Homo sapiens: one gene and its partner. The protein of the gene in region 1 purifies or fractionates together with the protein of each later gene. This does not show direct contact. Each region holds a gene or a part of one and is shown in the gene's direction. Other genes may lie near its edges.

Region 1 (3,500 bases):
TGGACAATTATTCAGCGACGTGAGGATGGCAGCGTTGATTTTCAGAGGACTTGGAAAGAATATAAAGTGGTAAGGACATTCTTTAAGGCATCAGAAAAGAATTTCCCTTGTGAAAAATAGCTTTCAAGATCTGCGGAACCTTAACCACCAATCCCAAACTAACCAATGACTTTTGACATGGTTTTTAAAATTGGTGCTTCAGTCTCCCCTTTAAAGAATGGCCAATATAAGGTAAACTGTATCAAAACAAAAGCTGCAGCCAGACGTGCTGGCTCACGCCTGTAATCCCAGCACTTTGGGAGGCCGAGGCAGATGGATTACCTGAGGTCAGGAGTTTGAGACCAGTTGGCCAACATAACAAAACTCTGTATCTACTAAAAATACAAATATTAGCCAGGTGTGGTGGTGCACACCTGTAATCCCAGCTACTCAGGAGGCTGAGGCAGGAGAATCGCTTGAACCTGGGAGGCAGAGGGTGCAGTCAGCCAAGATCACACCACTGCACTCCAGCCTGGGCAACAGAGTAAGACTCTCAAATAAACAAGGCTGCCACTACTTAGCTTATTTTTAAAGGTGGACTCAGCATTTTTTTGGTAAGCCGACTGTTTAATGGTGCTTCACATTCCCATGAACTGAGCTGTTTATGCCAAGGCTTCTGCTGGTGGCTCCCCAAGTAGTTCTCATTATCCTAATACAAGTTTTCTTCCAGCAGCAGCTTAGTGTCTAATAACTGACCTATTTAAAATCCATTTTCCTTTGGGAAGGACCCTAAATTGTCACAGCACCAGAAGGAATTTCTGCTATTTGATAGTTATTCTATGTTAAGTTGACGGACTATCCACTTCAAATATACAAAGAAAAAATTACATGAAATAATTGAATTTAACAACTTGCATTACAGGGATTTGGTAACCCTTCAGGAGAATATTGGCTGGGAAATGAGTTTGTTTCGCAACTGACTAATCAGCAACGCTATGTGCTTAAAATACACCTTAAAGACTGGGAAGGGAATGAGGCTTACTCATTGTATGAACATTTCTATCTCTCAAGTGAAGAACTCAATTATAGGTAAGTGAGTTCATGGTAATTGAAAGAAAAAATTAAAAGATTTGTGGCCGGGCACGGTGGCTCACGCCTGTAATCCCAGCACTTTGGGAGGCCGAGGTGGGCAGATCACGAGGTCAGGAGATTGAGACCATCCTGGCAAACAAAGTGAAACCCTGTCTCTACTAGAAGTACAAAAAAATTAGCCAGGTGTGGTGGTGGGCGCCTGTAGTCCCAGCTACTCGGGAGGCTGAGGCAGAAGAATGGCGTGAACCCGGGAGGCGGAGCTTGCAGTGAGCCGAGATCGTGCCACGGCACTGCAACCTGGGCGACAGAGCAAGACTCCGTCTCAAAAAAAAAAAAAAAGAAAAAGAAAAAGAAAAAAAAAATTAAAAGGTTTGCTGGGTGACTATTCCAGAAAATGAGAAACACAATGATTTAACCAAGATCTAAACTATTACTTCTTTAAGTTTCTCTGGGTTTAAAATTCTAACTTTGGTTATAACAATATAAAAGAAACTTCATACAAACAGTATTTTGTCCATTGTGTTTACTGTGTATCTTCAAAGCCTAGAAGAACTCTGCCTGGTAGATAATTGGCTTTCATAGGTATTTGTAAAATCAGTGAATAGTAAGTGTTCCCATGATAATATGTCACATGAATAGCATAAATGATGGATACTTGTGACTGTGCTGTTTTATTCCAAAAGGTTTCAAAAGTTAGTCTGTCTTTATGAAGTTTAAACACATTCAATTGTCTTCAATCTCAAAGTCAAGATTAGTTGTCAAGTTTAGAGATGGCAGAGTTAGGTGGGATGGTTAGTCAACTCTGCTCTCCTCTACAGGAAATACATCAGATTCACAGCATTCCCTGGGTGTTTACCTTGTCCTCACCCATTTGGTAGCAATAATCATAAGTAATAGCATGGGCAACCTTGACTGGGAATTTACTTTCTGCCTCTAAAATGCCATGAGAGTAGAGAGAGAGAACAGCAATGGGACTTGACAACCTAGTGTGCAAGATAAGTACGGTGAAGCCACATGCACAGTAATGCTGGTACACAAGGCACATAGAGGCACTCCGAAATGTGTGTGCAACGGGAGGGGCAGAGAAGTGAGACTGTGTGCCCACTGGCACCAACGCCAGCCTAAAGGAGTCTAAAGAGCACAGACTGGTGGCGCCTCGTGATCATGGAGCACACATTATGAAATACCCACTTTGAGGTCAGAAATTAGCAAATGAAGGTCAACACGAACATCACAAAAACAGTCATCATCTGACCTACAGTCTCGTCTTCATCTCATTAATGCCCAAGTCAGACACTCCGCTCCACGACCTGAACAGTCTGAAAGGAGACACAATGTTAAAGTCCTTGAGCAGGCTGCCCAGGGGAGGATTGTGGTGGGCAGCACGGAGAAGCGGCTAAATGTCAAGTTGCCTGAACAACCAACTGAAAACTCTACAATGCCCAGTATGTCCTGCTGTACAAACAGTGGATGAAAATTCAGAAGCATGTTTGAGAAACAGATATACATGGATGTGACTCTTTAAACATCAGTGAAGCATATTCACTATTCTCATTATGGAAAGATCAGGCTCTCCTGGAGAGGCAACAACCGAGATGAATGAGAAGATAGGTGTTTGGGCCTCACAGCAGTTCCAACTTGACTCCAAAGAGATCAAAACTTCAATGAATTTTGAGACACAAGTGGTTGGTCAGTGTTTTACCTCCAAGTTAAATATTTTTTCAACTGGCAACAGTTAGGAATCTACAACAGAAGAATTAAAAAAAAAAAAAAAAGAAGCACAAAAATTAAGGATTAGGCTGTTTGTATAAAAAGATTTTTACAAAATGGGTCATTACCCTTGTACGCTGACATTATAAAAATATTTTAAACTGAGATGGTTCTTAACAGATATTTCCTTTAGAAATGCAATCAATTTTTGGATAGGCCATTTAGAAAAACACACACATTGGTTTAAAGCTTAATTTGCTTGGCAAGATAAAATAGATATTACATCGAAAATTATTATCCTAATAAAACATGATGCTAGCATGATAAGAGAACTGTGAAGGGACTGAAACTTCTCATAACTGCAAATGCTTTGAGACGCCAGTTGTATGCAGCATGTAAGGGATTTTTTTTTCCCAGAAGAAATGTTCCCCAAGTGTTGGAAAACTGGAAAATACATGTTATAAGAAATGCATAAATGCATCAATAGAATTTCATTCTTTCTAGTGAAACTAAAAGCTATGCGTACATTAAATCTTAAAAATTCATCACTTTTCACACACATTCTGGCAGTTTTATATAACACTGAGGTTTAATTGTTAATGTTGATGTTACCTCTTTACTCCACTGTTATATAAAATCATCCCTGGCAAAGCTGCAGAGATTGAAAAAAAAAAATCAACCCATACCAATGTAAAGCAACTTCAAGAACGTGGCCATTC
Region 2 (4,036 bases), on another chromosome or scaffold:
TTCCAAACTGTTTCCATTAGATAGTGCTGCTTAGATCACAAACATTTTTTTTCTGGTCTGTCAGTTCTCTTACCCTAATTAAGCTGTTGTACACTTTCATTAGTCATTCTTAGATGAAATTCAAGTAACAATTATTTTTATGGAGTGTTTTATTAACTTTGTTTTTTGTAGTATGTGTTGCTTTTTTTTTTTTTTTGAGATGGAGTCTTGCTCTGTTGCCCAGGCTAGAGTGCAGTGGCACAATCTTGGCTTGCTGCAACCTTCGCCTCCTGGATTCAAGCAATTTCTGGCTAACTTTTGTATTTTTAGTAGAGATGGGGTTTCACCATGTTGGCCAGGCTGGTTTTGAACCCCTGACCTTAAGTGATCCTCCTGCCTTGGCCTCCCAAAGTGCTAGGATTACAGGCATGAGCCACCGTGCCTGGCCTGTGTTGCTTTTTATTCCTTAATTTTTTTATATAGCATCTTTTATCACCTTGTACCCAGTTTTCTATGCAAGTATTTCTTTTTCACTACACAGCTTCCTCGTAAGACTTTAACATATGTCTAAGGTCATTTTACTTTCTCTATCTCTTCATTGTTCTCTTTAAAAAACTTAAATATCTTAATGATAACTTTAATATCGAGATGGCATTTTGGATGAAAAACTTCATCAGCTTTTTTCCCTCACAAATTTAGCATGTAGATATTGACACATTCCTTTTATATTATTCTGCCATTTCTGTAGCATTTCACCAGTATGCAAGTCTGCACATGAAGGTATGCTTAGGAAAACTTAATGAACATCCATTTGTACACCTGATTACCATCATTTCATGCCTATAATGTGCAGATAGCCTGATGAAAAGCAACAGGCTTGTTCCTGGTATTATTCAAGGAACTCATGCTATGTGCTGCCAATAGAGTGGTGTTTTCATTCAGAGAATGCTCCTACTGGGCTCTTTTTCTCTGTCTTTGTTGAAGGCCTTCTCCTAATAACTTCCGAGCTCTCTCTGTCTTATAGTGCCAAGTAAAGAAAGTATCTGAAACCCAAAATTAAGTAGAGATGTTACACAAGGAAATTGTTTTAAGGGTAATTTAAATAATTGGATGTTTAATAGAGGATGCTTTCTGCATTCTTGAGGGGTTCAGACGTAGTGGAAATGACTTATTTATATATGGCTACTTTAAGATTGAGACATAGCTATTGAATTTACTTTGTTACTCCACTGTCCATTTAAACTTTTCTTGAGTTCTTATAATGTGGCAGGTGCAAAAGATGAATTAGAGTACCCTACATTCAAAGAAGCAATTTATCATAAGGTAGGCAGAATAGTTTTGACCAAAAAGTTATAAAATATATTGTAAGACAGGGGTCCCCAACCCTCGGGCCATGGACCAGTACCAGTCCATAGCCTGTTAGGGACCATGCTGCACATCAGGAAGTGAGCAGCAGGAGAGTGAGCATTACCACCTGAGCTCTGCCTCCTGTCAGATCAGTGGTGGCATTAGATTCTCATAGGAGCAAACCCTATTGTGTGAACCCTGCTGTGAAGTGTGCATGCAAGGGATCTAGGTTACATGCTTCTTATGAGAACCTAATACCTGGTGATCCGAGTTGGACAGTTTCATCCCGAAAGCATCCCCCTCTATGTCCAGGGAAGGAAAGGTTGGGGACCACTGCTGTGAGCTACTATTTGAAGACAACCCAGAAGTGATTTTTGCTTGTAGGTTTCCAGGCAAAGCTTGAGAACCAGTTCTCCTATCCTGATGTAGAACCTGGTATGATCTACAACACTAAGAACGTGTACATACCTGTGCTTGTATTACTCTCATTAGGACTACTGTGGCAATGTCCCAAGCAAGCACTATTCAAGATATTGACCCTCAAAAGCAAACTTACCTGAACTGTTCTTTTGTTCTAGTATGCACTCAAAAATCATTTAATTCTGATGAAAAGGGGTAGTTGTGTGATTTTGGGGTCAAATTTTAGACCCGTAGAAAAAAAATTGTATATGTAATAAATTTACATATTATAATTTATACACACACACACACACACACACACACACACACACAGAGTTTCACTGTGTTAACCAACTCTGCTCTAGAAAAAGAACCGATGGGGTTTTGATGACGAGCTGCTCTCTTAGTTATGGGAGGTGGGGACTCTCTTACTCATAGCATTTTTTTTTTTTTTTTTTTGAGACAGAGTTTTCCTCTGTTGCCCAGGCTGGACTGCAGTGGCGCAATCTTGGCTCACTGCAATCTCCACCTCCCAGGTTCAAGTGATTCTCCTGCCTCAGCCTCCCGAGTAGCTGGGATTACAGGCTCATGCCACCACGCCTGGCTAATTTTTATATTTTTAGTAGAGATGGGGTTTTGCCATGTTGGTCTCAAACTCCTGACCTCAAGTGATCTGTCTGCCTCAGCCGCCCAAAGTGTTGGGATTGCAGGCATGAGCCACTGTGCCCAACCTCTTTTTTTCTTATGAAAGACTTTTGCTGAATGAAAACTAAGTTCATTTTCTACCCAGAATCATTTTGCCGTGATGGGAGAGAGCCAACATTGGTGTTTTACTGATGCCAGATATGACTGCATGGAGCTCTATTAAATAGGGCGTGGTTTGGTTGGGAGTTACGTCTTTATTTTGAATTTGTGGATTTTTAAGATAAGTGTCAGAAAGCAGGATTCTTTGTAACCCTGCAATTCGTACAGCCAGCTTTTGTCTACTGTAGATGAGATTTGGCAGCTACTACCCAGAATAAGAAATTGATTTTAAAAGTTCAAGTGAATGCATTCCATATTTAAGATGTACATTCGTTCTAATTTCACAAAAAGGTGAAAAGCAATTGTAAATGTTTCCTTTGCCAGAATAATTTAAGTGACTTAGTATTTAATGAAACAAAATGATTATGGTGATAGCATTTTAGGACTGTTTTTGTCTGCCTGTATCCTGCTTTATTTCCTCCTATATTTCAATCAGTTTCTTGAGATTAAAGACAAAAATCTTTTTTACTTTATCTTCTTTCTCTTCTTGACTCCTAAATGTTGTTGTCCCTGAGAACTCACTCATTGCCCCTCCTCTTTCGACGCTTCCCCTGGCTGAATAACCCCAACTGTGTTCTGATACAGCATACTGTCTCAGGCAGGGCTTCAGACTACAACTGGATGACTCACAGATATCTCAAACAAACATATTAATAATTGAATTCATGGTTTTTCTGTAAATACTAATTTTATTTTATTTCTTGAGACAGGGACTCATTGTTTCACCCAGGCTGTTTGCTTACTTTGTAGCACTTGTAATCACAGCTCACTGCAGCCTCAACCTCCTGGGCTCAAGCCATCCTCCTGTCTCAGGACCCCAGCTCCACCCCCAAAGTTGGGACCACAGGCGCATGCCACCACACCCAGTGAATTGTTTTATTCTTTGTAGAGATGGGGGTCTTACTATGTTGCCTAGGCTAGTCTTGAACTCCTGTAAGTACTTAATCTGCCTTCTGCTTCTCTGCTCTCTAGGCTTTTCTCCCATCAATGCACTCAAGAAGGAAATCTAGGTGGCATTCTTGAATGTCTTTTCTCTCATATTCAGGCCTCCAGCGATTGCTGTTGTACTCCAGATGTTTTTTTCCATCTGTCACCTATCTTTCCACCCACCCTCTTACTGCAGATCACACTCACCTGCTCCCTGAGCTGCGGCCAGTCCTTTGCTTTCCTTGTTCCATTTTTTTCTCCCTCTCCCTTAATGCTTTCCCCATAGGGCATAACATTTAGTTTTCTTTAGTAGATGATTTCATTCTTCTTAAAAAACTCAGTGGCTTCAAATGAACCTTGGGATAAAATACAAAGTTTAACCATGGCCAAAAGGCCCTATTTGACTTAGTTATTGCCAGGCTCCTTGACCTTATCTTGTGCCACTCCCGGCTTGTCCCCTCCTTCAGCCATACCTTTCTTTGTAGCTCCTGGAGATTCAATTCTTTCTTGCCAGGGTCTTTCTACCTCTGCCTCACATATTCCCTCCATCTCTTCATTCCACTTCCCTCATCCCCACCCC

The links.
Region 2: the proteins of ANGPT2 (region 1) and ITGAV purify together in Homo sapiens (affinity purification with western blotting, with the first as the bait; one study listed by BioGRID). This does not show direct contact.

The regions. Positions count from the first base shown.
Region 1 is NC_000008.11:6,511,246-6,514,745, reverse strand, and holds part of ANGPT2 (angiopoietin-2 isoform b precursor), read left to right. Parts: coding exon 1-69; intron 70-901; coding exon 902-1,068; intron 1,069-1,579; exon of another isoform or gene 1,580-2,769; coding exon of another isoform or gene 2,770-2,814; intron 2,815-3,500. UniProt on the Homo sapiens protein: Binds to TEK/TIE2, competing for the ANGPT1 binding site, and modulating ANGPT1 signaling. Can induce tyrosine phosphorylation of TEK/TIE2 in the absence of ANGPT1.
Region 2 is NC_000002.12:186,596,272-186,600,307, forward strand, and holds part of ITGAV (integrin alpha-V isoform 1 preproprotein), read left to right. Parts: intron 1-3,933; exon of another isoform or gene 3,934-4,036.